Linked DNA regions of Homo sapiens. The protein of the gene in region 4 purifies or fractionates together with the protein of the main gene of each other region. This does not show direct contact. Each region holds a gene or a part of one and is shown on either strand. Other genes may lie near its edges.

Region 1 (7,023 bases), on a different chromosome or scaffold from region 4:
TGTGCACGGGTAAGTTAACATCTCCGAGATGTTTTTGCTCATCTGCAAAATGGGAAGAATGAGCAGGATCATGTGATGGTTAATGGTCATGTAAAGCACTCAGCCTAGTGGCCGGCATGTAGTAGGGATTCAGCAGGAAGGGACCTTTATGCAATCATGTTGCTATATAAGGAGGAAAAAAACCCTACTGTGGCCTTCAGAGTTGATGATGTGATTTGTGATGGCAGAAGGGGGCAGCTTTTTACCCTCATTCATGGGTGGTTTGTGAAAATGCCCACACACCAGCTAATCTCCCCCTACTCCCAGCTCTTTGTTGCACTTTGCCATCAATGAAAAGAAAATGTTGGAGTGTCTTTTTTTTATTTGGTGTGGGAGGGCGGGGAAGGGCTGTTCTCTGGTGATGCCTTTGAACTTCCTGGTGACTGTACATTGAAGATGATCTCTTTGCTGGTTAAAAGTTAAGCTCTTCCCAGTTAGTGTGTTTAATCCCAGCAACCCAGAGGCTTACCTGATTCAAGTACATTAACGTGGTCATCTGCTTGTTACCTGGCTTATCTTTCCTCCAGCATGAGTTAACCTGTTTTGTTTTTTTCTCCCTCTAGATTATTTGCTCTCAAATAACTACGTAAATTCTATCATCGTTCATAAATTTGACTTTTCTGATGAGGAGATTATGGCCTATTATATATCGTTCCTGAAAACACTTTCGTTAAAACTCAACAACCACACTGTCCATTTCTTTTATAATGAGGTAAGTAATTGCCAGAGGGGCACGTGTGGGTGTAAAGCCACACGTGGCTTTTTTTTTTTTTTTTTACGGCAGCGCCTTATATCTGGATGGTCTTGTGTCTGTTTACAAAGCTCTTATATGCTTGTTATGATTTTCATGGCAACACTTTTGACTTTGGCATGTTTAAAAAATTTTTTTAATTAAATAAGTTACCTTTCTATTAAAAAAATGTAATTCTTTGTAGAGACAGGGTCTTACTATGTTTCCCAGGTTGGCCTTGAACTTCCGGGGCACAAGCGATCCTCCTACCTTGGCCTCCCAAAGTGTTAGGATTACAGGCATGAGCCACAGCACCTGGCCAGCCTTTCCATTGTTAATGTAAAATTCAGTTTGTTCTGAGAGCTTTATACTTGGTAGAGAGGAGACATGCCCAGATGTTGTCTTGGGGAAGTGTTGCCCTGTGGGAAAAACAGGAACTCCAGTCAGGGCTGGTTTTGTCACTTCCCTGCTGTGTCACCTTAAGGAAGTCCCAGTCCCTTTCTGAACCTCAGTTTCCTCATCTGAGAAATGGGGATAAGAATATACATCTTGTAGGGTTATTAGGGGTTAAATTAAATGAGATGATGTCTTCAAAGTGCCAGTATGTACATAGCTCCCTAAAAGCATAGACGTTGCTATTGTTGATAAGATAATGTCCCTGACATTCTTTGGGAGAATTATTAAAATGAACAACTTAAATAAATAAATTGCTCCTGTCCTCACACCTAAAAGGGGTTTGAACAATAGGGTCAATGTATCACCCACACCAAAAGGTCCAGGCACTGGTCGTGCTGGGGCTGGTTCATCCTGTGGTTCAACAGTATCAGCGAGGACCCAGGCTTTCCCATCTTGCTGCTCTGCTGACTATACAGCTGGCATCCATCCTCAGGTTCAACCCCTCATGGTCACAGGTTGGCTGCCACTGCCAAAATGCCTGATGAGATCACTTCCCTTCTTGTGTCCCTTTTTAACTTCCAAAGAAAACTTTCTCAGAAGGTTCTCACCAGCCTTCCCCTCATGTTTCCCTGCATCCCACTGAGTACTTCTTAGGTGTCAGGTGCTGGGATAAGCACAAGACCAGAAATGATCTCATTTAATCTGGAAACCATAAAGTAGATGTTATTATCCCCATGTTATAGATGTAGAAACAGAGGTTTAGAAATACTGCATTGCACAGGTTAGAAGTGGTAGAATGGGTAATGAACCCAGGTCTGACATTATCTGGACTCATTTTCTTTTTAATTATAATTTTCAAAGTAGAGATGAGGTCTCGTCACATTGCCCAGGCTGGTCTCAAAACTCCTGACCTCAAGCAATCCCCCCTCCTTGGCCTCCCAAAGTGCTGGGATTCTGGGCATGAGCCACCACTCCCAGCCAATCAATCAGTGATTACTACTACTACCACTACTACTGCTCTTTTTTCTTTTTTCTTGTTTTGAGACAGGGTCTTGCTCTGTTGCCCAGCCTGGCGTGCAGTGGCACGATCACATCTCACTGCAGCCTCCAACTCCTGGGCTCAAGCCAACCTCCCACCTCAGCCTCTCCCAAGTAGCTGGTACTATGGGTGTGCACCACCACACGGACTTGGACTCTTCTGTTTCTTCCATGGCTTTGCCTTCCTGTCCCTTTCTACATGCCCCATTGGGAATGAACCACTGACTTACGGTTCACATTGGCAACATTTTTTTTTTTTTTTTTGTCTTTTTCTGAAGTCTCTGATGGAATTCAGAGAGTTGGGGTGGGGCCAGGCCTGGCTTATGGGCTTATAATTTGTTTTCGTTATTTCTTTTGTTTTAGCACACCAATGACTTTGCCCTGTACACAGAAGCCATCAAGTTTTTCAACCACCCTGAAAGCATGGTTAGAATTGCTGTAAGAACCATAACTTTGAATGTCTATAAAGGTAAGTGTCCTCATGGGCTTGTGTCTCGGCTGATTTCTGACTTGGCAGCAAGCACTCACTCCCGTGTGTGTGCGTACAGTTCTCCGATTGTCACGAGGGAGCACATTGATGATGAGCCGTGGCAGCTTCTCTCATGAAAAACTTGGAATCCCCTAGCATTTAGCTGGCCGCTCATGGAAATCCTTGCCTTCTCCAGGCATGTCGAAGTCTTGCTCATGCTGCTACATAGAAGTAGGATGTCCTGAGAGGCACGTGTGGGATTCAGAGTGGCTATGTTTTAGAATTTGAGAAAGCAAAGTTGTCTTTTTAATGTGTCATTTAAATTTTTGTGTCTTGGCTTGTGAAATATACTTTAATACAGCTAAGGGGTAATTTGACTTTTAAGTAATATATAAAAGCATGTCACATTGTGAACAGCAGGGGGCAATGTTGTATTCCCAACAGGCTGCAAAGCCCAGCACTAACAATTCCTCCTTTCCCTCAAGATGTTCTTAATGCCCAAAACATTGCCCCAGGGAAAAAGCCATTCCCCCACTCTCCGCTGCACTGACACAAAGGCTGCCTGGCCACAAGTTTCCTGAACTGGAATTGCCCTTCCAAGGCGATGCTTGGAAGTTCTCTGCCTAATTCCTGGGTTATTTTCCCCGGAGTCACCACAGTGGAGATGGGACTATTTTCTCAGGGATGAAAGGGCTTTGACTTTCATGAGCCAAAATGTTATTACTCCCTAATGAGGGTGGGGGCTTCTCAGGGACTCACTCCAGCCTAGCACTGGGCTTACATTAAATTTAAGAACCTTTCTAAGAGCCCAACTGGACCCACCCAGGGGTCGCAAACTGAGGACCTGTGGGCCATATCCAGCCATCAGACATGTTTTAACTGGCTTAGTTTTTGAAAAAATGTGTAGTTGCCAGTATTTAAAAATTGGGAGATCTTCCATGATAATCTGGATTTGCACCTTGAAGATGTAGATTTGGCTAGTCAAGGCCCACAGTCCTGCAGTTGGGGGGGTCAGCTGGCACAGAAGCAGCTGCCCCTTTGGGGTCAAGGCCCGTGCTCCCAGGTCACACGCTGGACCTCTGGCAACTAGCCAACGTGGCAGGCTTGTAAGATTGTGACCCTGGTCCAAGCCACAGTTGGTTCTGCTGCCTCCTGCTCTGTTTTCTCCTGTCTCCTTCTAACCTTATCTCTCTGTGCAGATGCCTCCCACCCTAGTCTCTCTCCCTCTGAGCAGCTCTCTCACCTTCCCAGGTCCTAACCCTGTTAACTGTTGTCTGTTTTTTGCTTTTCCTTCAATGACGATTCCTGTGTTCCTTATTCCAGTGTCATGTAAGTTATTAACCTCTGGTTTTCTGCTTTCTTAATCTACCCTTATATGTAAATACCTTGCTTGAGAATGGTGTAATTCTCAGTGTAGTCTAGCTCAGTCTGCTACTGATAAGTAGGCTCTCCCATGCACCATTAATGTTTAGCCCAACTAATTTATTTTTAAGTATAAAATATCATAAGAACTGCCTTGATGACTATAGTTTTATGAATAAGATAAACATTTTTAAGTATTTCCAGGAAAGACAGACAATTTCAGATTATAGCAGAGGGCTTTTTCATTGTGGTTTTTGGGTTTTGCTTTGTTTTTGTTTTTTTTTTAATCTTCCCCAAGTTATTTTTGGTAGCTTGACTTTTTTTTTCTTCTGTGAATTTTCTCAGTGGATAACCAGGCCATGCTGCACTACATCCGAGATAAAACTGCTGTTCCTTACTTCTCCAATTTGGTCTGGTTCATTGGGAGCCATGTGATCGAACTCGATGACTGCGTGCAGACTGATGAGGAGTAAGTGACACCCCCAGGGCCACTCAGTAGATAGACAGGGTGGTTAGGGGAGAATTCTGTTTTCATCAAGGAAAAATAAACACAAGAACCGCACTTCCCTACCTCTGTGTAGGCAGAGCATGGACTTCCGTACTGTAAAAGGTCCTGCTCACCTATTTGTAATAATGAAATGCTGGAAACAACTCAGACGCCTCCCAGAGCAGGCGGGGTAAATCAATTCAGTACAGCCATAGATGGGGCTGCTACGCAGCTGGTGAGAAGGTCAAGGGGCTCTGTCAGCTGATGAATGCATTAACAAAATGTAGTCTGTCTGTACGATGGAATAGTGTTTGGCGATAAAAAGGAATGAAGTGCTGACACTTGGTGTGGCGTAGATGAACCTCAAAAGCATTATGCCTAGTGAAATGCCCAGAATAGGTGAATCTATAGGGGCAGAAAGTAGATTCGTGGTTTCCTAGGGCTAGGATGTTGTGTGGGGACATAGGAAGCAACTGCTAATGAGTATAGGGCTTTTTTTTCTTTTTTGAGACAGAGTATTGCTCTGTCACCCAGGCTGGAGAGCAGTGGGGTGATCATGGCTCACTGCAGCCTTGACCTCCTAGGTTTAAGCATTCCTCCTGCCTCAGCCTCCCAGGTAGCTAAGACCACCAGGCCTGTGCCACCATGCCCAGCTAATTTTTTTGATTTTTAGTAGAGATGGGGTTTCGTCATGTTGCCCAGGCCAATCTTGCATTCCTGGGCTCAAGCAATCCTCCTGTCTCGGCCTCCCAAAGTGCTAGGATTACAGGTATGAGCCATACATCCGGCCAAGTAAGGGGCTGCTTGCTTTTTTTTTTTTTTTTTTTTTTTTTTTTTTGAGACAGAGTCTTGCTCTGTCTCCCAGGCTGGAGTGCAGTGGTGCAATCTTGGCTCACTGCACCTCTGCCTCCTGGATTCAAGTGATTCTTCTGCCTCAGCCTCTGGAGTAGCTGGGATTACAGGCATGCACCACCACGCCTGGCTAATTTTTGTATTTTTAGTAGAGACAGGGTTTCACCGTGTTGGCTAGGCTAGTCTTGAACTCCTGACCTCATGATCCACCCACCTGGGCCTCCCAGAAGTGCTAGGATTACAGGTGTGAGCCACTGTACCCAGCCATAAGGTGCTTTTTTTTGCAGGGGGGATAACAGTGTTCTAAAATTGACTGTGATCATGGTCAGGCAACTATGTGACTCTACCAAAAACCATTACATTGTGTACTTTAAATAATTGAATGTTATGGAATGTGAATTATACTTCAATAAATCTCTTTTAAAAAACAGATTAGGATGGTGGTTTTGTCCTCAAAGGGATGATTAGAAGTTCCAGAGCAGGATTTCTTTCCCTTGGCTCTATTGACCTCTTGAACTGGGCACCATTGTTGGGGGGGCTGTCCTGTGCGTTGTAGGATTTTTAGCAACATCGCCAGCCTCTCTACCTGCTAGATGCCAGTAGCACCCCTCCCCAGTCGTACCAACCAAAAATGTCCCCAGACATTGCCAAATGTCCCCTTTAAGGCAAATTCACCCTCACTTGAGAACCACTGCTCCAGGGTGACAGCTTTGCCCAGGCCTAGTGAGAGGTGCACCTAGATGGGGTCAGGATGCTAAAGGGACCAGGGCAGACCCATTGGAGCAATTGGGAAAGCTAGAAGCCTTATGGATTTAAACAGTCATGGATGCGAGACATAATGAGACACTTAACTATAGAAAGAACAAAGTTATACAAGCAAGGAAATGAAATCATAGTCCTCTATTTGGCTCCACAGGGAATGTTATGACATCAACCCCAATTACTGATAACTACTTGTGGGGAAGGGGCAGAGAGAATGGAAGAGTTCTGTCATAACAGGAGGTCAATAGATAATACCTAAAATGGCTCAATTGCAAAATAGGAGTCCATGCAGATTTTCTAGAAATATGGGAGGAACTATCTGCAGAAACAAGTAACTGCCTCTGGACAGTGAGGAGAAGTAGAGGAGGGCTGGGTGCGGTGGCTCACACCTGTAATCCCAGCACTTTGGGAGGCTGAGGCGGGCAGATCACTTGAGGCCAGGAGTTGAAGACCAGCCTGGCCCCATCTCTACTAAAAATACAAAAATTAGCCAGACATGGTAGTGCACCCCTGTAATCCCAGCTACCAGGGAGGTCAAGGCAAGAGAATTGCTTGAACCTAGGAGGTGGAGGTTGCAGTGAGCTGAGATCGCACCACTGCACTCCAGCCTGGGTGACAGAGCAAGACACTGTCTCAAAGAAAAGAAAAAAACAGTGGAGGAGGCGAGTCTGGGCCAGGAGCTGCTCTTTTTCATTATCAGCTTATCAATGCTATTTGAGTTTTAAACCTAGCTGCATATATTACTTTGATATTTTTTAAACCAAAGTATTAAAAAGTGAGGCACTTTAAATATACCATTAGAGAAAATGTTCCAAAGTATCTTATTAAGTGGGAGAAAAGTGCAAAACATTGTGCATAAATGTTCTAGGTCTCAGGCGCACGGTGGGT
Region 2 (8,017 bases), on a different chromosome or scaffold from region 4:
GTGAATGTAGGGAGAATTGTTTTGCTTGTAACATGGAGAGTTTATTTTCAAGTGAGGAAAGAGAAAAAAATTACTCAGACTTGTTCCTGGTGAAGTGCATTCTCTGTTTGTATACTTTTTGATGGAGAAATTGATCTATAGAACTGCTTAATTTTTTGAGGCATTTAGACAGCAATGAAAGGTAGTTCTCCACAGGACACCGAATCAAAAGGAGAGACCAGACTCTGGCCTCATACCCAGCCTATTTGAAACAAGCTATCTAGTTTCTCCTGCAGACACCTTGTCAACAACATGCAACAGTGTCAGGTGCCTTGCAGGAAAATAATCTGAGTCCCAAGCTAGCCTGTGCTCATCCACAATCACAATGAACATGTCAAGGAAGAATTTGCAGAGACTCAAGGGAAGCACAATGGGATAAGGTAATCACTTTCAGTGAAAAACTGTTTTCTTGAAAACAGGCTTGGACACAATTGAAAGCTGGCTTCCTGCAAACACACCAAGAGTCTGTAATCTAGCCTATCCATTATATGTCCTTTATTATTCATGATATCCTATTCTTCTACCTTGTTGCCTGGTAACTTTTTCTGAGGACTGAGTTTCTGCAGCGATGTGGTGCACTCTTCCTGTGATGAGGAAACATCTGGGCCCCCTTCTGCAGGCTTTGGAAGATGATGTGTCTTGTCAAGGGGTAAAGGGCAAATGGATTTAATTTCTGCTTAAAACTATCATAGACGTTCCAAATAGAATATGTAAAATTTCTCTGTATTAGAAAAAGAAACGTGATACCAATTGTATATTTTCTTTTCTTTATTTATTCTCTGTAAGTCTGTCAGATGATAAATTGTAAATAACAATGATTAAAGAGTCATGCTACTGATGGATCTCCCTTTCTGTATAAACAGTGCCAGTTCTGGGCTTTGTAACCTTTGCTCTTTATAGTCTTTCATTCCTGGGGAAGTGATGGGGCATGGGCCCAGAGCTGGGGTGTATGTGGTATGGACACCTGTTTGTGGGGCTTTCCAGCAAAGGATTATTTAAATAGACCTCTAACATATGAGTTGACTGTTTATTGGGAAGAAAGCATCTTGGTCTCTGACATATCCAAACATACGAGACACTGGGATTTTACGTCCTCACATTAATTAGTCCAGTTCTGGGGAATCCAGTCTAGAATTAACTGGTGATCCCTTATCGTTATGGTTACAGACTTGTCTTGTTTGATACACAGAAATCCTTTTTAAATCCAAATATAGTCTGTCTCAGACTACCTGCACATGCACAAACCAAAAAAAACTATGAAAACCAGAATTTAGACTCAGTCATTATACTAGAGATTAGAATGAAACGACCCCAAACAACCCATTTCTTACCTGGTCTCTGAGAATAAGTTTATACTTTTAGTTTTCTGAGAATATTTCTCAGAATATGTGAGTTTTCTGAGCACATTTTTCAGCATGGGGTATGGTAGATAAATCACAGGGCCAAGGTTTGGCAGGGATAGATGGGATCATTGTGTACCCTATTGTTCTTCTGATTTCCAGGAGAACAGAATGAGCCCATGCAAAACATAAACTTATGATGATTAAAAAAAACACACCTATCCATTCACTCATCAATAAAAACATATTATGATGGTTATCAAGCTGTGTCCTATGAGTGATAAAATATTTGTAAAATATAAAATTAAATGGCATCTATTTTGAACTCTATTCTAGTCTCTCTGAGCACCTCTAGCAGTTCAGCCCATCTTTCAAAAGTCATAACACCTTGAAAGCAGCAACTTTAGTGCAGAAAAAGGAAGAAGAGAGCAGTTTCATCACTTGGCTTGAATGAAAATCTTGGGGAAAGGAGAGACAGACGGTCTTGCTCTGAAGCTGTCTGGACTTCACTTAATTCAGTCTGTCTTAGGCTGGCGGTCATCCCGAGACTGCGGTAATGCTGAGCCTCCACAGCCCAGGCCCTCTCCCTTCTTTATAGAAATGATTTTTTTATGGGACAGCCACACAACCAGGTCTTCTTCTTATTCCTTATCACCTCTGAGCTCTAGAACATTTTAAAATGAGTCTTTGGGTCTAGACTCTCACAATTAGGCTTAATTTTACTCCATGACTTTCAGAAAATGTTGTTAAATTGTGGTCTCTTTAGAACAGTTGAAAGTGGGATAAGCGTAGGAGCTGAGTTCCACCCCCATGATAAAGAAATTTTATTGGCCGGGCGCGGTGGCTCATGCCGGTAATCCCAACACTTTGGGAGGCCGAGGCAGGCAGATCACTTGAGCTCAGGAGTTCAAGACCAGCCTGGCCAACACGATGAAACCCCACCTCTACTAAAAAAAAAAAAAAAATATATATATATATATATATATACACATACATATATACACACACAAAAATTAGCTGAGTGTGGTGGTGTGTGCCTGTAGTCCCAGCTACTCGGGAGGCTGAGGCAGGAGAATTGCTTGAACCCGGGAGGCGGAGGTTACAGTGAGCCGAGATTGCGCCACTGCACTGCAGCCTGCTGACAGAGTGAGACTCTGTCTAAAAAAAAAAAAAAAAAAAAAAAATTTTATTTAGGAATCTAATGTTCTAATAACCAGATTTGTTCTTTCAATCTAATTTTATTGATATAGGATAAATGATTACTAAGTAAGTTGGTATCATTAATCAAAACCTCTAGAATCAAAAGCCAATATAAATTATCTCAGTGTTTTATGGATCATTGCTGTTCATAAATAATTAAAACACTGAAAGAGGCCATTAAATAAAGTATGTTCAGTAGCGTTTGATGTATGATACACAGTTTTATTCTGCATGAGCTGGGGCTAGTGATGGTCCCATTACCAGTCTACTACAAATACAGAAACCTAGAGTAAGCATTAGAAACCTTTATAGCAGTTTTGTCACTGGAAGGAGGGCCTTGAGTGTGAGTCGTCCAGGTTTTTGGCCATTTGGAACGAAAAGTTGGACAAAATGCACAAAGTAACAAAGGAATGAAGCTGCGAAAGCAAAAGCAGGGATTTATTAAACTGAGAAAGCACTCCACAGGGTGGGAGTGGGCCTGAGCAAGTGGCTCAAGGGCCCAGTTACAAAGTTTTCTGGGTTTTAAGTAGTTCTTTTGAGGTCCCTATGGGCTACCCCTTATCTGGATGAAGGATTTGGTTTATGGCTAAGTAAAGGCTGAGGTGAATTTGTGCCCTATGCAGATGATGGCATGGCCCATGCTTAGTGCTTGGCCCACAGCCAATCCAAGGCACTTTCCCTTTCCATCTGAGACATGGTGGAAGTGTGGCAGGCCAGGTCTCACTAACAACTGTTTCAGTACTAAGTGGTTAAATATTAAAAGCCAGTGCCCTTATACAAAGGCTGGGATGTAACAAAAGCCCATCAAGAATTTTGCCTAGGCCTTTCCTGGGCCTCTTAAAGCATACAAAATAAAGAAAGAATTCTTAACCGGACCCCTTTAGGATTAAACAAGTTTTATTGTGGTCTGAAGAAACTCCCCAGGCCTCCACAAACAAGTTTATTGGGGGGTCTAAGAGAACTCCTCAAACCTCCACCACTTAGCAGGAGAGAATACAAGGGCAATCACCCCAGCACCTGGACCCATTTAGGTTAAGTAAATTTACTGAGGCTCCAGAGGAAGGTTTTCAGGACTCAGACCTTAGTTACAGATTAAAAGAAGTTAATCACTTATGTCTTTAGATAAATGCACACTTACACATAGACAGTTCGCTTAGAAGGCATATAAGCTCTGAAAAACTGTAATTTTGAGTTGGTCTGGTGATAATTTCCAGGCCTTCTCCCTGCAACCGGTTACAGAAATAAAAACTCTCTTCCTCCCCAGCTCATCTGCATCTCGTTATTGGGCCTTGAAAAATAGCAGCCCAACCCTCAGTTTGGTCTGAGAACAGAAGGTTGTAGGGAGAGTAGCCTTTGATCCTTTGCTACTGGGGAGTGGGGAGATGGGGTTTTTCCTTCTGGTTTAGCTTTAGGAAGTTGGTGTTAATTGACCCTAGGCTCTCGGCCCCCAGACCCAGGTGTTTTCCTTTTGATCCAGCTTTGGGAAGCCAGCACCAATTGGTCTCAGATTCCCTACTTCCAGCCCTTGCTGTTTTTCCTTGATTGAGCTTTAGGAAGTCAGCACGAAGTGGCCTTAAGTACCCTGCCTCCAAACCCTATTCTGCCTCATTTTGGCAGAGTACTTTTATATGTCTTGGATCTAATAATAAAATATCGGGGCTTGTGTTTTGTATGCCTTTTGCTTTTCTTTTTCTAGCACTTTATTTTTTTGTATTTTCTAAAAGCACCCATCTGGGATGGCTTGGAGACAAAAACAGGTCCTTTAGCACAGTTTGAGATGCACTGATACAGAAGGTTACAGCACATTCTCAGTACTTCGGAGAATGAAGTTCTGAGATTCTGATTCCACGCCACATTCCAAGTTTTGAATACTGGTAATTTACGTCTGATTCTACATAAAGTTCTTAATAAAATCAGTGCTCATTTTCTCAAATAAGCTTCTTTAGAGGAGGAGGTCTGGGATCAAAAGTTGGGCTGTGAAGTGGCACAATGCCTGGATCTGTACATCCAAAAAGGAGTGGAAAATTAGATGATAATCGCCCAACTTTGGCTCCTAGACCCAAACCTTTTCTCTAAAATGGGCACTGGTGCAAATACCGTGAGGCCTTCCTGCAAAGAAGTGCCAATCTCAGGCGCCAGGGCACAGACCCAGTGCGTGTCACAGATCCTGTCCTGAGTGCTAGGCCGGGTGACGCCCCCACCAGGATTAAAGATCAGGCGCCCGCTGAGCCCTAGGAAGCAGTGACAGACACCTGCGCCTAGGCGGAGCGAGAAGAGCCTGGAATGGCTCCGGGCTTTGCGTCACGCAGCTCCGCCCCTCGGCCTATCTCACCCGACGCCGTCTCCGAGGGCAGGGAACGGTTGGCGGACTGAGATTGGAGGGATCAGCTCAGACTCGATGACGCAACGGGAGGCGGGGCGTGGCCGTACTCTGATTGGTGACGGGTGAGGCGGCCCGAAATCGTAGGACTTCCGAAAGCAGCGGCGGTGTTTGCTTCACTGCTTGGAAGTGTGAGTGCGCGAAGATGCGAAAGGTGGTTTTGATCACCGGGGCTAGCAGGTGAGGCCTCCTTTGGGTTGGCAGAGGCGGCAGCGGATCAGGGGTCCGAGAGAGCAGGGGTCTGCGACCCTCCACGAACGGACCCCGGAAGCGCCCGCCCCTGGCTTTGCCTAGGTTCCCCGGAGTCTGCAGCAGGTGTGGGGCATGTCGGCCTCTTGAGGTGCTCAGTAACTGGTGCTTTGTATTAAACATGACAGTGAAAAGGAAAACTAGAGCATCAGTAAGTGATGAGTGTCGCAGTGATGATCCTGAGGTTATCAAGGCAATGGGGTACTCAGGCGGGCTCCGCCCCTTTTCCATCTTTGCCTACTGTTCGTATTTATCGTCAGTGCCCAATATTTTGCTCCTGACCACGTGATCATGTCTTATACTCCAGGTGTTTTGTCTGTACAAGCCTTTTGCCTACAAATTTGAACACCCATGAACATTAGGACGGTGGAGAGAAAACAATCCCGTTTCATTTAGCTCAGTGCTAGAGAGCTAACATACTCTTCAGAAACCCAGAGAAAATTAATCTTTTCCTATGAAGGCATGGTTGGGGTGCAGAATAACCAGCTCATAATAATTCCAGGGTTGCTCGTTTAGTCTCTCAGCCTCTTCTGTTGCTTGTTTTACCTGTCATTTGCACTTCTGTGAAAAATGTGTGGAGGATGAAGCCAATCAAACCATTTTTCTACTAGTTGCATTTGGCATTTTTAAATGATTAAGACAGAGGACATGTTAAACATTTAAGATTGATCCACTTTCAATTATTTAACCACATGCGTATTAACTAAGCCAGCTTGGTAGGTGTCTGCATTTGGCAACTTTTTAGCATACCCTCTCAAGTGACTTTAACCGTTGATTGGTGCTTCTTATGTGGAAGGTACTGAGTAAGTCAGAATTGATTTTGTCTGTTTCTTTTACATATATTGTGACATGTGCAATTGTATATTAAATGCCTACTGTTCTCATGTGAGGACAAATAAATATTTTTGATGCTTTGTTGTTGGTGCTAATAGATTACTGATGGTTCCAGGCTCTTTTTGGGTTTTAACTATTAACATATTTGCCTGGAATCAGCTTAAGTCTTGAAAGAGAACTTATTACCCAGCTTTTCATTGCTATCAGCCAGGCTGGTCTGACTGCTGTCACCACTCCTATGCGGTTTTACAATGCTGGTTTTGAAGTTCTTTGTTTCCAAGTGGTGTACTCATCTAATATTTAGTGTATTCCTACCTTCTACTTAATCATGTTGAGTTCTTTCTTTTTCTATTATTTAATCATAGTTGTTGAGAGGGATTTGTACATCCTGCCATGTTACTGATGCCTCATCCTGAAAGATTCATCTGTTCCTTTATCAGAGATTTCTGGTGCTCCTTATGGTGTTTACGATACCAGTAGGTGGTAGAGCCCTTGCCCCTGAGGAGCCTAGACAGCAAAGTCAAAATGCACATAGGAAACAGCTAATAAGATGCTCTTTTGAGCCCTTACTGGTGATATATTAAATCATTTTCATGAGTGACATAATAGGTACAAAATGAAAACCACTGGCAGGATAAAGCCCAGTAGTAGAAAAACTAAAGAACAATTCTTGTTTTCAGTCCAGTTATTTTGTCATTGAAGTTTTTCAAAATGAGAAAAACACAAACTAGGCTGTGTCTCAAGCAAGTGACTATTGGAGTGTAGGATTCCTCCCTTCTTAAATAATTGTTGAGTCTTTTCTTTCTATCTGGGCTTCTCATTGGAGGTCAACTTGACACAGTTTTCTGAACCAGAGAGAAATGCCTGTACCTGATGCCATCCCAGATAACCCACATCTTGTGTCTGAATTGTCCTCCCAGTGGCATTGGCCTGGCCCTCTGCAAGCGGCTGCTGGCGGAAGATGATGAGCTTCATCTGTGTTTGGCGTGCAGGAACATGAGCAAGGCAGAAGCTGTCTGTGCTGCTCTGCTGGCCTCTCACCCCACTGCTGAGGTCACCATTGTCCAGGTGGATGTCAGCAACCTGCAGTCGGTCTTCCGGGCCTCCAAGGAACTTAAGCAAAGGTATATCTCTTGCTGATGGATTTTTTTTCTCATGTGATTGTGCAGCATAACACTTAATAAAATAAGAGAGGAAAGAAAAACCTGAAAAGAAACAGGTGCGGTGTAAGCAGTTATGTTGAGGAAGTCTGTATAGGGTGACCCATTGTGTCTCAGTACCACGTTTTCTTTCTTTTTTTTTTTTTTTTTAAAGAGATGGAGTCTTGCTCTGTTGCCCAGGCTGGAGTGCAATGGCGTGATCTCGGCTCACTTCAACCTCCACCTCCTGGGTTCCAAGTGATTCTCCTGCCTCCACCTCCTGAGTAGCTGGGATTACAGACATGCGCCACCATGCCTGGTTAATTTTTGTATTTTTAGTAGAGACGGGGTTTTACCATGTTGGTCAGGCTGGTTTCGAACCCCTGACCTCGTGATCCACCCGCCTCGGCCTCCCAAAGTGCTGGGATTACAGGCGTGAGCCATTGCGCCTGGCCAGTACCACATTTTCAGTCTCAATCATGATCATAATTATTTCATGGAGACTAATTTATGAGTACATCCTGATGTGTGATCAGTTGGTACTGGGATTACAGGCGTGAGCCATTGCGCCCAGCCAGTACCACATTTTCAGTCTCAGTCATGATCATAATTATTTCATGGAGACTAAGTTATGAGTACATCCTGATATGTGATCGATCAGTTGGTGCTGGGATTACAGGTGTGAACCATTGCACTTGGCCAGTACCACATTTTCAATCTCAATCATGATCATAATTATTTCATGGAGACTAATTTGTAAGTACATCCTGATGTGTGATCAGTTGCACTGCCTTACGTTAAGGTAACTCCTTTGACATTTGAATTCATTTTTTACA
Region 3 (7,023 bases), on a different chromosome or scaffold from region 4:
AGGTAGTGAAGAAATTATGACGAATCTCTATGCTTGAAAGCTGTGGCAAGTATGATAGGCTAGAATTATCAAATGTTTTCTACACATGTAGCTAAGCAGATTCAGCTGAACTCTTCAGGTTAAGAACCACTGTGATCCTCAGATACACAAATCTGTTCTTACGGCATTGAAGGAATCTGGCTTTAAAATACAGATGCAGTTTAGTGCAGTTTTTGTGTTAGACAATTGCCATCTCTTAACTCACACGTACTTTAGGACTGCTGCTCAAAACATAACTGAAATATACTAAAATCTTGAAGTCTTTGATAACACTTTACAGAGATCTTAATAAATGCATACTCAAGATATAGCAAGAGATGTCTCTGATCTTCCTTTTAATGCTCAGTGTAGGTAAAGTAGTATTTGGTTTACTATTATATGCTTATTGCTTATTAGTCACTATAGCATTTTTCAGGCAAATTGAAAGACTGGTCTAGGTTAAATCTTAAAAAAACAAGTTTGTCCATTTAGGTCTAGTATACTTTAGCCTTCATGTATTGACTGAGTGATTTGCTTTTTAGGATCAACATTTTTTAATAAAAATCTGAATGAGTAACTCTCCTTTGGGCCAAAGGACAAATTGGGAACAGTCTGCTCTGAAGTTCATATAAATAATATTTACCCAAGCATAAAATGTGTGCTTGGAAGATATAAACTATATAATTTATGCCTAAACTTATTTTACATTGTTTTGATTCCCATCCAAAATAGAATGTGGATCCTGATTGCCTTGCTGCATCTTATACTTTGTCGATTAGTATACCTAGTAATATCCCTTTGTCTTTTTTTTCACAACTCTCCTATCATCTTTCATGAGCACGAGTAAAAGGAAATACTTGAAATTTACAGATGATTCACAAAAAAAAAAAAAAAAAAGCAACAGTCACTAAAGTTTAACAACTCTTTGTTAACTTCTAGGTTTCTAACTGTTCTTTTACTCATTTGTCACCCCACTCTCTTTTCTAAATTAAAGATATAGTCCAAAGGAATAGTTTATTACCATGTAATTATCTTGAAATCTTACTTTTTCAATTTCCTAATTTAAGACTGTCATATCTTGTTGCTTAGTCTTTTCATATTCAATAATTAAAATATATAAAAATGGAAGTGGTTGGTAATGTGTGCACTGCATTTGAAATTGGAGTCTGAATCATTTCAATGCATATAGTCTTTCTGCAGAATAGCGATTTTGAACAGTTGGCATATCATGTAAGTTTTTATAAATGTCAGCATTATGAGCCAATGAACTATATAATGGTCAGATTTACATCACAATAAAATATGAGCATAATAGTAGGGTTTCATATGTGACCATTTGTTACAGTAAAATTTAGACCTTTGGACTATTACAGTACAGCTTCAGTTAAACCATATGAGGAGTCATCACAAAACAAACCTTAAATTTATGCATTCACGTTTGACCATTGTTTTATTCTTCTTCCATTATTCCCTAAAACAATATATAAAATTATATTGCATTGTAGAGTTTGGAGAAGGAAGAATTTTATATTTTGGGGTATCTTTGCATCTGTGCAGAGAAAATGTGTCAATAAAATGTAGATAAAGCCTGTTGCTCATGTGTTTCAAGAAGAAAGTGTCTTTATCATAGAACAGAGTGATACATCTTAGATGTGCATTGATTGCCAATCATTTTTCCTTCACACTGTAGTCAGTAACTAAGTCAAGGCAACTGCAAGATAGTTCAGAAAGGCTAGCATCCCACTTCTATAGGTGTGTGGGAGTCAGAAGACCTGGATTCTAGTCCTGTCTTCTTTAGTCAGTGCCACTATAATCCTGGCCAAGCATCCATTTTCCTGTTGTTACATCTGTCAGATGAAAAGAAGGGTCTTTCCTATGCCAAAGATTAGTACAATAGCAGATAGTAAGAGAACGCTTTGCAAAGTCCTATATAATGTACAAAGCAGATTTTTCCCAAAGTGTTTGACATAAATTATTTTAAAAGTACAATGACATTTGAAGAACCCTGGAATTGATTCTTCTTGTAACAACACAACCAGTTGTGCCTTTTGTTCTGAAACAGATTTTCATGTATCTACTACTTACAGGGGTGAAATCTTGCATATTGAGTCAGAAGTGGGTATGGGCTAGAGATATGAAGGAGAGATGAGTTGAGAACATGAACTACTTTATCTCATGTCCAGCCCTAATCTATTTGACTAGCATGTTACCCACTGCACTTATCTCCTTCCTGCAGGCTTCATTTCTTCTATTCTTGTCTCTTCTTCCTCTACTTCCAGCTTTATGTTTTCCTTTAGTGCCTCTCTTCTCTTAGACTAAGGGGAGACGAGTCGGAATAAATGACAGACTTTGTAGCTTTAAATATTGTCATATTGGTTTTTATGGAGAATATGTTGTACAGAACATAAAACTAATTCATTATGTACTTAAACCAAATTATCAGACACATCTGCTCTATGGGTCATGGTCTGTATGGATAGCCTTAATCACACCAGGTTATATTGCTGTGGAATGGAAGACATTTGTTCATAGTGTTGCTCTTGGGGTAAAAGGGGTTATACCTAAATGTAGACTCTGTCTGAATTACAAGTTTTTAATTTTTTCTTATATTTATGTCTAGGGCAGGAGCGATTTGGCAACATGACCCGAGTATACTACAAGGAAGCTGTTGGTGCTTTTGTAGTCTTTGATATATCAAGAAGTTCCACATTTGAGGCAGTCTTAAAATGGAAAAGTGATCTGGATAGTAAAGTTCATCTTCCAAATGGCAGCCCTATCCCTGCTGTCCTCTTGGCTAACAAATGTGACCAGAACAAGGACAGTAGCCAGAGTCCTTCCCAGGTGGACCAATTCTGCAAAGAACATGGCTTTGCCGGATGGTTTGAAACCTCTGCAAAGGTGAGATCTGCTTTGCTTATGCATCTTTTGCTTTCTAGCTCATAATTCTGAGCTGTAAATGTAAAGTATTTAGATATATTTATGTGAGTGGTGTTTGAAAGTCTGGAAAATGAGAAGTGTAGCATGGATGTGTTATAGCTTCTTTCAGTCCACAACAGGACTGCTTTCCAAATTGGCTAATGGCTAATAGAAGGGCAGATTTTCCATCAAAACAAAAAGAATTATTTAGGGCAAAAAGCAAATGACATTTTCTGTGAGTTTGAGTTTTTAACTGAGGTACTTCTCATGCAACTAGAGTGGTTGGGGGTATTGTCAAGCACGAGAATTTTTGGTTTTTACAAAAGGCTAAGTGAATAGGAAGATGCCTCTGGTGAAGATGTGTGTCACATGCAGGACCATGTGAAAAGATCAGAGAGGAGATTTATTCAGATGATGTTTGAAGAGTTTTAGGTTAACTGTGTACGAAAGATTTGAAACAGCCAGAAAGTATCAACATTTGTGGTATGCTTCATAAACAGTAGAGTGAGAATTTTTTCTTTTGTCTATTATGGAAAGCTGAATAAAATATTTTCTGAAGGAAAAAATAAAACACTCAGTTGACTTTCAAAAATCTTAACAGTCTAGTGACCAGGCACGGTGGCTCATGCCTGTAATCCTAGCAGTCTGGGAGGCCGAGGCAGATGGATCGGGCAGATCGCTTGAACTGGGAGTTCGAGACCAGCCTGGGCAACGTGGCGAAACCCTGTCTCTGCCAAAAATACACAAAGTAGCTGAGCATGGTGGTGCATGCCTGTGGTCCTAGCTTCTCGGGAGGCTAAGGCAGGAGGATCACTTGAGTCTGGGAGGCAGAGGTTGCAGTGAGCCGAGATCATGCCACTGCACTCCAGCCTGGGTGACAAAGTGAGACCCCATCTCAAAAAAAAAAAAATCTTAATAGTCTAGATATAGAAAAAAGGTGAAAATTATACATATATAAAATGTTTGGGGGGGGGGTTACGTGCATTGGAACTTTCACATAAGGGGGTTAGTGACAATCAGATTTATGTAAGAATGATGAAATGTTTGAAAAATTCTGTGATGACAGATAAACATTATACCATAAATTTGTTGAAATCATAACACAGTTCTAGCTTTTAGTTTATGTTCTGTGGATTTCTTGTGTGTGTTTACGGGTGTTTTTATATATGTATGTATGTATGATTGTTCCTCCAAATCACCCACCTCATTCTGGATATTTACTAATCAGATTAGGTTTAGCTCTACTAGAAACTTACCCTTAGAGTGAAAAACTACTTGATGCCAATGATGATCTGCGGGATAAAAGCGAAGCAATGAGAGACTGCACAAAAGGAGACCGCTCCAAAAATATTGCGCAATGATGGAGTCACTGGGAAAAAAAAGACTGTCTACTGCAGGCAGAAATGTACACTCCTAAGCTAGAGGCTAATTGTTTGAATAAATATAGCATCTTAAAATTTCCTTTCATAAATAAAACATAGTGATAGAAGAAAGATGAAGCCCAGGAGTGCTATGTGAGCACTTAATCTGACACGAAGGAGAAAATCACAGAAAGAAAGCCTTCTTATAGAGAAGTCACCTCATTCTCCCAAGAAGCTAGGACCACAGGCATGTGCCACCATGCCCAGCTACTTTTTGCATTTTTAGTAGAGACAGAATTTTGCCGTGTTGCCCAGGCTGGACTCAAACTCCTGAGCTGGAGTGATCTGCCTGCCTCAGCCTCCCAAAGCACTAGGATTACAGGCGTGTTCTTCTGGACACTCATGCCCTCTGTCTGCTCTGTATGCCTATTGGGTGATTTGCTCTACTTGCCAGCTTTGCTGTAAAAAGACGAAAAAAAAAAAAGGGGCAGTAAGTATAACTGCTTATGCGAGTGTGCATTTTGGTGGAGGAGTTTTATAAATGATAGACAAAATTCCCCTTTAGGCTCTATTTAATCTTTCAGATAGTAAATCCAGATTTGCCCCCAGATGTAAGACGTCATGTGACTAGTAGCTTGTGACTGTGTAAGTCATCGGTTTCACTTTATGTATGGATAGGATTACACGCAGAGGTGAAAGGTGAAACGCTGGTTAAGAGTACAAGTTTCAAGTTTGCTCTGTGCTTCCATACAAATATAATAGAAGCAGCTTCTGTAGAATTTCCTTAGCAGTAAACCAGACGTGTTCCAAGAGAATAACAGTAATAAAAAAATTTAGGTTAAAAATCTTAGAGTTAAGGCTTAAAGTACTGCCTAAATGTCACTAAGGTACACTTCTGAGCTGGCCTGCAGCTAACTTCAGATCTGACTTTTGCTTGAATTGCAGTCATCCGAATTTCACTAGGAACATAGGCAAAAGATAACTTTTGCAAATAAATTTCATCATTTCACCTTTATGGCAAATAATGGATTTCTAATATGAAACTTTAATAATATTAACATATGGGAATTACATTAACATGTGACTAGTTACACTATCATTGGAATTTTAACCAACTGCTTCCAAATACAGTTAGAGAATTTTATAATTATTTGATATAATGGGGATAGCTGGGACTGAATGTCACTTGGACATTCAAAAGATCAATACTTGAATTAAAGTTAACACTTATCTTGGGAGTGGAGGTAAAAAATAAATAAAAAGCTTGTTTCAGTGCTATGAAAGATGCCTGTAAATAGCACAGCTGTTTTAGGTTTCTTGTTGTCTGAGAAAGGGTTTACAAATAAGGAAAAAGGCTACAATGAACCTCATAGCATTGGATTGGATTAGACATTAATATGAGCTTCAGGTTTCATATGTGTGTGTGTGTAAGAGTATATGCATATATATATGTGAGTGTGTATAGATATATGTATGTACACACACATATGTGTAAACAGATAAAGAAGTTGATACAGATGCATGTGTGTATACATACGTTTATTTACTAGCCATACCTGCTGAGAGGGCTTAAAAGGAATGACACCACAGAACCAATTAACTTACCTCGTGCTCAAAATTCGGTTTTTAAATATCATTCTCCAGTAAAAAGAATGGGAATCTCTAGAGAAATGCCTGATTTTAGGACGGGTGGAACAAGTCAAGTAAAGATGTGCCTGAGATATTTTGTTGTGCAAGAAACTAAGGAAATGCTTACAAAATGATGGGGACATGTGACAAAGATACAGGATACTGCCATACAAGCTCCAAACATGTAAGACAATTTGAGCAACAAACTAAATAATTACTGTAATGGGTTCAACTTATAGAGTAAACTAATAATCCATGATAAAAATGAACAAATGAATAAAGAAATGGGGGAGAAGGGAACCTCTTTCTTTTTTTATTTTTATTTTTTTATTATACTTTTAAGTTTTAGGGTACATGTGCACAACGTGCAGGTTAGTCACGTATGTATACATGTGTGGAACCTCTTTCTAACAGTAGAATTCCAGCTAATAAATGTAGAAGGAATGGCAGAAATAAAAAAGTCACCATTAAACACCACAGTGATGATTGTTGTAGGGAGGAATTAATTGATGATAACATTAGTGGGGAAAAGTGCGGTGAGAAACAGGATATTTACATATTTGCACTAAGTACAAAGGGAAAAATAATAACTTTTCTGTGGAGAAACATGGCAAAAACAACTTGAAGCAGTGTGCTTCCTGATAAACTGTGCAGGGTACATCACTTGTGTTTTATTTCTGCCAAAAATACATACGTTGAATTTAATGATAAGGAAACATCGAACATCACAGATGGAGGTATATTCACCGGCCAGTGCTCTCTGAGAGTGTCAAGGTCATGAAAAGCAAGGAGAGTGAGGAACTGTTCGAGAGTAAAAGAGACCAGGGCGACAACAGTGAAATATAGCTTATGATCCTGGATCTGAAATAGGGCATTGAGATAATTGATGCAATTTGAGTAAGCTTTTTAGGCTAGCACTGATACAACACTATTATGTAATTTCCTGATTTTGATAGTTGTATTCTGGTTATCTAAGATGTTAACATTTGAGAAATATGTGTGAATGGTAGGAATGTTTACTTTTTTTGCAATGTTTTTGTAAATCCAAAATTATTTAAAAATGAACAGTTAAATATATTTAAAAATAAGCACAGTTTTT
Region 4 (7,276 bases):
TAACTAGTACGCCAGGTTGGGCTAGGCTAGGAACCACTGAGTCTCTTGGGATGGTTTTGTTCGTTTCTGCTCTGACCCATTATTTGAATGTCACAGCTTAATGCCCAGGAGGTGAGGGTACTGTCCTTGTTTCCAAGTTCTCTGGTGGGGGAGCACCTGAGGATTTTTCCCCCAGGAAACACCTACACCTTCCCTGTATCCAGCAGTTTCCATTTTCCAGTAACAGAGAACACCTAATGTCAGGCACTAGGCAAGGCCCATCCCACTTTCTCTCTATAACTATGCTGGAGGGAGGGACTGTTATCCTGCTGGAGAGACAGATAAGAAACAGGTATGTAAAGGTCAAGTAGAATGACCAAGGTCATGTAACTTGTAAGAGACCCCACTAGGATGCTGTCTACAGCTTAAACTGTTAGTGCATCTCCAGTAATGTCTATTTCAAATAACTGCTATGTCCCAGGTGGCTACTTCCTAAATAGAATTTAGAAATTATCATTCTCAATTATTGAAATGTAATGAAAAAGTAAACTCGGGTACCACCTTTGTACCTCCTCAGTCCCCAGTGTCTAAAAAAGGTGCAAGTGAGTGGAGGGAGAGGAGGGAGAGTTACTTTCCTCTAGAGAGGAAGTAACTCTAGAGGAAGTAATGTTTCTTTGAGGGTTACTCAAAGGAGGAAGTGAAGTAAAAAGGAGAAGTAACACCTTCATGAGGGTTTATAAGGGAGGGGCCTGTCTGATGCTGGACAGCATGCTTTCCTCCATGAGGAAATAACTAGAAAAGAAGAGGAAGCGGAAAGAAAATGTGCAAAGGCCCTGGGGCAGAGAAATGCTGAGAGGAACCACTGTGGCCAGAGGGGGAAGGCGAGGGCTAAGATGTTTGAGAAGTGGCCGTGGAGGCTCTTCAGGCTGGAATGGCAGGACACTGAGTGTATATGAAGATGTCCCGAGCCGTTTGAGACCCTCAATTTTCATGTCTTCCATTCTAAAGCTTATCTGGCTGATATGGACCTGGGTGGGGACATGCACATGCTCCTGCATGGCCTCCCCTCTCCACAGTCTCCCATCTTCCCCTGGGCAAAGAAAGGCTCCCTTCCTATCTAACCTGAGTCTGACCCCCTTCCTGTATACAGTGTCCTGAGGCACAAAAACATCCTCGGCACCAAACAGAGACACTTTTGGTGTCTCTTTCAGCAAGACTCCAAAAATCCCCTCTCTATCCATCCCTTAAGTAATGCACTTTTAAGACAATTTTCCTTTTTATGTTTAATAATTATTTATCAGAATACATATTTGTGTATGATGTCTTGATCACTTAAATACCATTAATCATTGTTATAATCACATAATCCTAAAGAGAATTTTAGAGCCTTATTAATTAATCATTAATTAATTTTTGAGGCAGGGTCTTGCTCTGTTGCCCAGGCTAGAGTGCAGTGGTGTGATCATGGCTCACTGCAGCCTTGACTTCCTGGGCTCAAGTGATCCTCCCACCCCAGCCTTCCAAGTAACTGGGACCCCACGTGTGTACCACGATGCTCAACTAAATTTTAAACTTTTTTGTAGAGGGTCTCACTATCTTGCCCAGGCTGGTCTCAAACTCCTGGCCTCAAGAGATCCTCCCACCTCAGCCTACCAAAATGCTGGGATTACAGGCATGAGTCACTGTGCCTAAACTTTTTTTTATACTTTCAACTTTTGTTTTGGATTCAGGGGGTACATGTGCAGGGTTGTTACACTGGTATATTGAGTGATGTTGAGGTGTGGGGTATGACTGATCCTGTCCCCCTGGTAGTGAGCATAGTACCCAAGAGTTAGTTTTTCAACCTTTTCCCCCCTCCCTCCCTTTCCCCTTTAGTAGTCCCCACCAGGGTCTGTTGTTGCCATCTTTATGTCCACGTGTAGAAAATTTTAAAAAGCTAATGCATATTCACATATTTATTGTGGTTCACATAATAGATAGGTGATGAATACAGAATTTAAACAATAAAAGCATTAGGGTAGGATACAATTCTGTTGGAAAACGGAATGGAAACATACTTAAAAGGGGTAAAGAACACAATGTAAATATTTTGACTGTTAAAGGGATACTTGTTTATATTCTTAAGTATAACATGGCAGTTTTGTATTCTTATACAAATTCCTTTGGGTATATTTAAAAGAGAGAGATAATAATTTTATACATAAAGGTCAATAAATACAATATACCCTATTTAAATATATGATTAAAAAACTCATTTTAGATGCCAACTTGAAAATGTGTAAGGCAAACATATTGTTAAACATTTTTTAGGGGGTTTCAACAAAAAGTCTGTTATAGGCCATAGTGCTCTAGGGGTGGTGACAGTGATCCGGAGGCGGGAACGCCGGGCTGGCATTGTCCCTGGAGCCATCTACATCCAGCTGGCTGGGCTGGAGTTTGGTGTGGCTTCCAGTGTTCACTGCTATGATGCTGCTATCAGGTCAGAATGTCAGCAGGGATTTGTCTAGGCTTTACTGTCTCCCCAGCATTAACCATAGTGCCTGGCACGTAGTAAGAGCTCAACACATATTCAGCGCATGAATGAGGGGCCGGCACTTACGGAGCTCTCACTTTGTGCCAGGCACTGTGCTAAGAGCTGCCTATGCATTCCCCTGGAATTCTCACAACCACGCTGCAGTAGGTCCAGTGAGTATCCCCATTCCAGAGATGGCGAAACTAAGCCACAAAGAGGATACATAACCAGCCCAAGGCCACCAGTCAAGGAAGTAGCAGACTGGGACCTGGGCATCCTGGCAGGCACCCTTTACCATAATGCCTCTCTGTCCCCATGTGGTCCCTGGGGTAGAGTCTGCATCCTTGGGTTCTGAAACTCCAGAGCAAGCACTCTGGGGCACTCCCTGAGTGATACCCTCCTGCCATCTTAAACGGCTCTCTGCCATCTGCTTCCTCCTCCTAAGTGGTTTTCCTTCTGTCCTCCCTGTTTAATGTTTAAGTTGTGCACATCCTGTGACATCCTGGAGACCCATGTTCCTGACCTACTTACCTATTCAACCATCTCTTCTCACACATGGGGTAGCAATGAGAAGCACAGGGGGTCTCTGCAAGGGAGTAGGGAGGTGGAGAGAGCGGGGGCAGCCACACATCACACTGCTGTTCTCAGTGGCCTCCTGCTGTCAACAAGCTAACATTAATAAAACAAGCCCACTCTTCTGCTAAGAGACTGTGACAGGGTAACATTTATTCTAGGTAGCTTTTCAAGAAAACAGCTCTTGCTCCCACGGTCCCCTCGGAGGGCCTGCAGAGCTCCAGCGATGTCAGAGGGCATCTGTTTGTTTCTCCTTTGCTTATAAAAGGGACCTGGAAATCAAAGGCAGGCTCTTAGCCCTTAGCAGTGAGGATGACAGCTCTGCACCAGCCACACGCAGGCCCCTGGCTCTAGGAACCACCTCTCACCCAGACGCCCAGGCACAGCATGGTGGGGAGAGAGTACAGGACACAGGGCCTAGGCCTGCTGCCCCGCCCACAGCCCGCCCCCTAGCCCTTTCTCTGAGGCCAGGTGTACTCACCTAGCCTCCAGGGTCCCCTGCTCAGGTGGCCCCAGAGGCCCAAACCCACTGCTCCCACTTTCTGAGACCTGGGACCCTCACCTCCCCAACTCCCACCATAGGGCGACACTGAAAAGTGTCCCCTTCCCCCCCCCGTTTCCAAGTCACCAGCTTGAGGATGCCCAAGGCTCAAAGGCTCCTCCGAGTGGCACCCCGCATCGGGCTGCAGAGGTCGGAGAGGGGAGGGGATGGTGGGTGCAAAGGGTGGCTTCTTCAGGAAAGGGAAGCCTGTCCCTGGCTCCCAGCACCTGTCACCCCTGGCGATCTCACCCCGCGGCCATCATTCCCGTCCTCACGGCCCATTTCAGGGACACTGAGGCTCAAAGAGCCACGTGATTTATTCAAAGCAGCTCGAGCCACCACTTGGAGCCACAAGAAAGCCCTGGTCCGTGCCTCCTCGCCTTGGTCCCTGGCCCTTCACTCTTCGTCCAGGCTCTCTGACCTCTTTCCCTCTGCGCCCCTGCCTCTTCCCCAGGCCTGGGTCCCCAAGGCACTCGGCCACGCGCTGGGTCCGGGGAAGAGGCGCGGCCGCGGCCGAGGCGGGGACAGGGAGGCGGCAGCCCCTCCTGCGCAGCGACGGCGCGGGCGGGCGGAGGCCGGGGCGCCCCAGCCCCCCGCCCCCGCTCCCTCCGGCCGTGACGTCAGAGCCGGACGGGGTAAACTGAGCGGCGGCGGCGGGGCGCTGGGGCGGAGACTGCGACCCGGAGCCGCCCGGACTGACGGAGCCCACTGCGGTGCGGGCGTTGGCGCGGGCACGGAGGACCCGGGCAGGCATCGCAAGCGACCCCGAGGTAACACGGCCCCGGTTCCCTGCTCGCAGGGCGCGGTGCCGGAGGGGAGCGGGCCCGGGGGAGGCAGGGAGGCAGGGAGGCCCCCAGAGCTACGCGGGCGGGGCTGCGGGGACCCCGGGGCAGCCGGGGCGCAGGGCGCAGGGCGCAAGGTGCACGGGGCCGAGCGTGCAGTTTGGGAGGTGGCACAGTTGGGGGCGGCGGGGATCAGGGCAGCGTCCTGGGGGTTCTAGGTTGGGTCTCCAGATTGGGTCCCCGACGGCGCTCGCGGGCGCTCTTTCCAGGGAGCGCGGGCTCTCGTGGGGACGCGCTCGAGGCAGGTGAGCCGAGGCTGGGGCGCCCGGGGGTGTCCCCGGATGCCGGTGCGCGCGGCTCCCTGACCCGCCCTTCCGCGGCCTGGGGGACGGGAGAATGGGGGGTCCACGGCCGCCTTGGGTCCTCACCGCGCACCGCGCCCGCAGCGGAGCCCCGGAGCCATGGCCCTGAGCGAGCTGGCGCTGGTCCGCTGGCTGCAGGAGAGCCGCCGCTCGCGGAAGCTCATCCTGTTCATCGTGTTCCTGGCGCTGCTGCTGGACAACATGCTGCTCACTGTCGTGGGTACGTGCGGACAGGGCACCCCTGCCCCGGCACCCCAGCCCCAGCGCCCCTTCCCCGGCACTCCACTTACCCCTGCGCGGTCCCGGAGCTCCGCCAAGGCCCGGGAAAGTTGGAGAACTCGCTTTGCAAAAAAGACATCCCCTCCAGGCTGCCGCGCCGGGGCTAGGAGGAGCCGCGTTGTGTGGCTTCGCTTTCCTGATGCTCGGGTCAAAAACTGTGACATCCGATAAGACCCAGAACTTATGTTTCCCCCTGATAATTTCCCGCATCCTCTTGCCTGCTTTCACTGCGATGAAAAAGATTTCTGTTCCAAAAGAGAAATTCCTAAAGTTCAAAATTACGTGTTAGAATAATTATTGGGCTACTCGAAAAGGCAGGTTAGTAATTTGGTGTAGTACCTAAAAGAGCAAGTTTCGATCCCTTACTCCAAAAACAAGACATTTAGATATACTGTATTAGTGAATGACTTGAGATGGAAATATTTCAGGAACCATTGCAAGAACAATTTGAACAATCTTGGTTCTATTATTTTTCCTATAGTGGAATTTTGAAAAATTAAATAATCGAAATCCAGGTCCCTTAATTAGGCCCATTAACAGAGAAGTATTTGGCATGCATTTCCTTAAAAAAAAAAATCCCAGTTTTTAATGAATGAAAAAAAAATCACGACTCATTTAGACTGTAAGTGGTGGGAGCTGTTTCCTTTCTCTCCATTTGCAGGTTTTCTCACAGCAGTTTTCAGAGCATCTGATAGGTTTCATCTCGAGGAGTTATCAGAGCCGTGGAGCTCATCCCTGTTCAGTACCAACGGCATTAGTTCTGCTTCGGCTCGAATGCTCCATTGGACACATGTGCTCACAGCTTCGATTATATGTTTCACAATTTAATTTGTATTTTTTGTTGTTGCTTTTTATTTTGGTTTTTGTTTGTTTTTTTGAAATGGAGTCTCACTCTGTTGCCCAGGCTGGAGGGCAGTGGCACAGTCTTGGCTCACTGCAACCTCCACCTCCCGGGTTCAAGTGATTCTCCTGCATTAGCCTCCCGAGTAGCTGGGTTACCGGCATGCCCCACCAAAGCTGGCTAATTTTTGTATTTTTATTAGAGACAGGATTTTGCCATGTTGGCCAGGCTGGTCTTGAACTCCTGACCTCAGGTGATCTACCCGCCTCGACCTCCCAAAATGCTGGGATTACAGGCCTGAGCCACCGTGCCTGGCCTGTTTCAGTTTTGCTTTTTCCTTGTGAAAGCCTTAGGAATTCTTAAATCTTACAAGTTGTAGGAAAAATTACAGATTCCCACTCATAATAGAAGGATGAAGTGGGCCTGTTGCAGAATTTCCAAGTTATTACTTCCTGCAGGTTAATTTTTTTCTAAGACACATAATGAAGTGTAGTTTTCTGTTTCCTTGATTCATTCATTTGAAAGTCTTTTGAGCCTCTCTTTCTTAGAAGCACTGGTTGACTCCAGGTCAGCACTCTCTTAACGTCAGGCCACATTTTGCTTTTCTGAAATATTCCTTGAAGGAACAATGTGGAAGAAACCCACAAATGACAGAATCTCTGGGACCAGTCAGTTCAGCACAGCAGCTGCCTTTTGAGAGGAGACAGTTCTCAGGGCCGTTGGGGGCATGGTTCTTTCTAGTGAGCTAAGTAAAGTGAACTTGCTCCAATGTCGTTATAGACATATGGCACAGGGCTCCTGTTTTGGGGTAGACCTGTCACCCTCTGGACCTCTTCTGGCATTTGACACAACCATAGTTTTGTTGTTGTTATTGTTGTTTTGTTTGTTTGAGACAGAGTCTCACTCTGTCACCCAGGCTGGAGTGCAGTGGTGCAATCTTTGCTCACTGCAACTTCCACCTCCCAGGTTCAAGCGATCCTCCTTTCTCAGCCTCCAAAGGAGCTGGGATTACAGGTGGGTGCCACCACGCCCAGCTAATTTTTGTATTTTTAGTAGAGAGAGGGTTTCTCCATGTTGGCCAGCCTGGTCTCGAACTCCTGACCTCAGGTGATCCACCTGCCTCAGCTTCCCAAAGTCCTGGAATTACAGGTGTGAGCCACTGCTCCCTGCCGACACAACCATAGTTTTTTGCTGGCTTTTTTCCTGGAGAGGGTTTCAGTGTGATCACCACCTTGCCATTCTGCTCTTATCCCCAGTCCCCATCATCCCAAGTTATCTGTACAGCATTAAGCATGAGAAGAATGCTACAGAAATCCAGACGGCCAGGCCAGTGCACACTGCCTCCATCTCAGACAGCTTCCAGAGCATCTTCTCCTATTATGATAACTCGACTATGGTCACCGGGAA

The links.
Region 1: the proteins of SLC18A2 (region 4) and CLEC16A purify together in Homo sapiens (affinity purification with mass spectrometry; 2 studies listed by BioGRID and IntAct, with this or other methods). This does not show direct contact.
Region 2: the proteins of SLC18A2 (region 4) and HSD17B7 purify together in Homo sapiens (co-immunoprecipitation; 2 studies listed by BioGRID and IntAct, with this or other methods). This does not show direct contact.
Region 3: the proteins of SLC18A2 (region 4) and RAB32 purify together in Homo sapiens (co-immunoprecipitation; 2 studies listed by BioGRID and IntAct, with this or other methods). This does not show direct contact.

The regions. Positions count from the first base shown.
Region 1 is NC_000016.10:10,968,559-10,975,581, forward strand, and holds part of CLEC16A (protein CLEC16A), read left to right. Parts: intron 1-602; coding exon 603-751; intron 752-2,566; coding exon 2,567-2,672; intron 2,673-3,995; coding exon 3,996-4,001; intron 4,002-4,379; coding exon 4,380-4,503; intron 4,504-7,023. UniProt on the Homo sapiens protein: Regulator of mitophagy through the upstream regulation of the RNF41/NRDP1-PRKN pathway. Mitophagy is a selective form of autophagy necessary for mitochondrial quality control.
Region 2 is NC_000001.11:162,785,697-162,793,713, forward strand, and holds the start of HSD17B7 (3-keto-steroid reductase/17-beta-hydroxysteroid dehydrogenase 7), read left to right. Parts: upstream 1-5,005; 5' UTR 5,006-5,104; coding exon 5,105-5,139; intron 5,140-6,962; coding exon 6,963-7,166; intron 7,167-8,017. UniProt on the Homo sapiens protein: Bifunctional enzyme involved in steroid-hormone metabolism and cholesterol biosynthesis. Catalyzes the NADP(H)-dependent reduction of estrogens and androgens and regulates the biological potency of these steroids.
Region 3 is NC_000006.12:146,546,826-146,553,848, forward strand, and holds part of RAB32 (ras-related protein Rab-32), read left to right. Parts: intron 1-2,638; coding exon 2,639-2,916; intron 2,917-7,023. UniProt on the Homo sapiens protein: The small GTPases Rab are key regulators of intracellular membrane trafficking, from the formation of transport vesicles to their fusion with membranes.
Region 4 is NC_000010.11:117,236,846-117,244,121, forward strand, and holds the start of SLC18A2 (synaptic vesicular amine transporter), read left to right. Parts: upstream 1-4,268; 5' UTR 4,269-4,375; intron 4,376-4,815; exon of another isoform or gene 4,816-4,833; 5' UTR 4,834-4,848; coding exon 4,849-4,969; intron 4,970-5,039; exon of another isoform or gene 5,040-5,152; intron 5,153-7,125; coding exon 7,126-7,276. UniProt on the Homo sapiens protein: Electrogenic antiporter that exchanges one cationic monoamine with two intravesicular protons across the membrane of secretory and synaptic vesicles.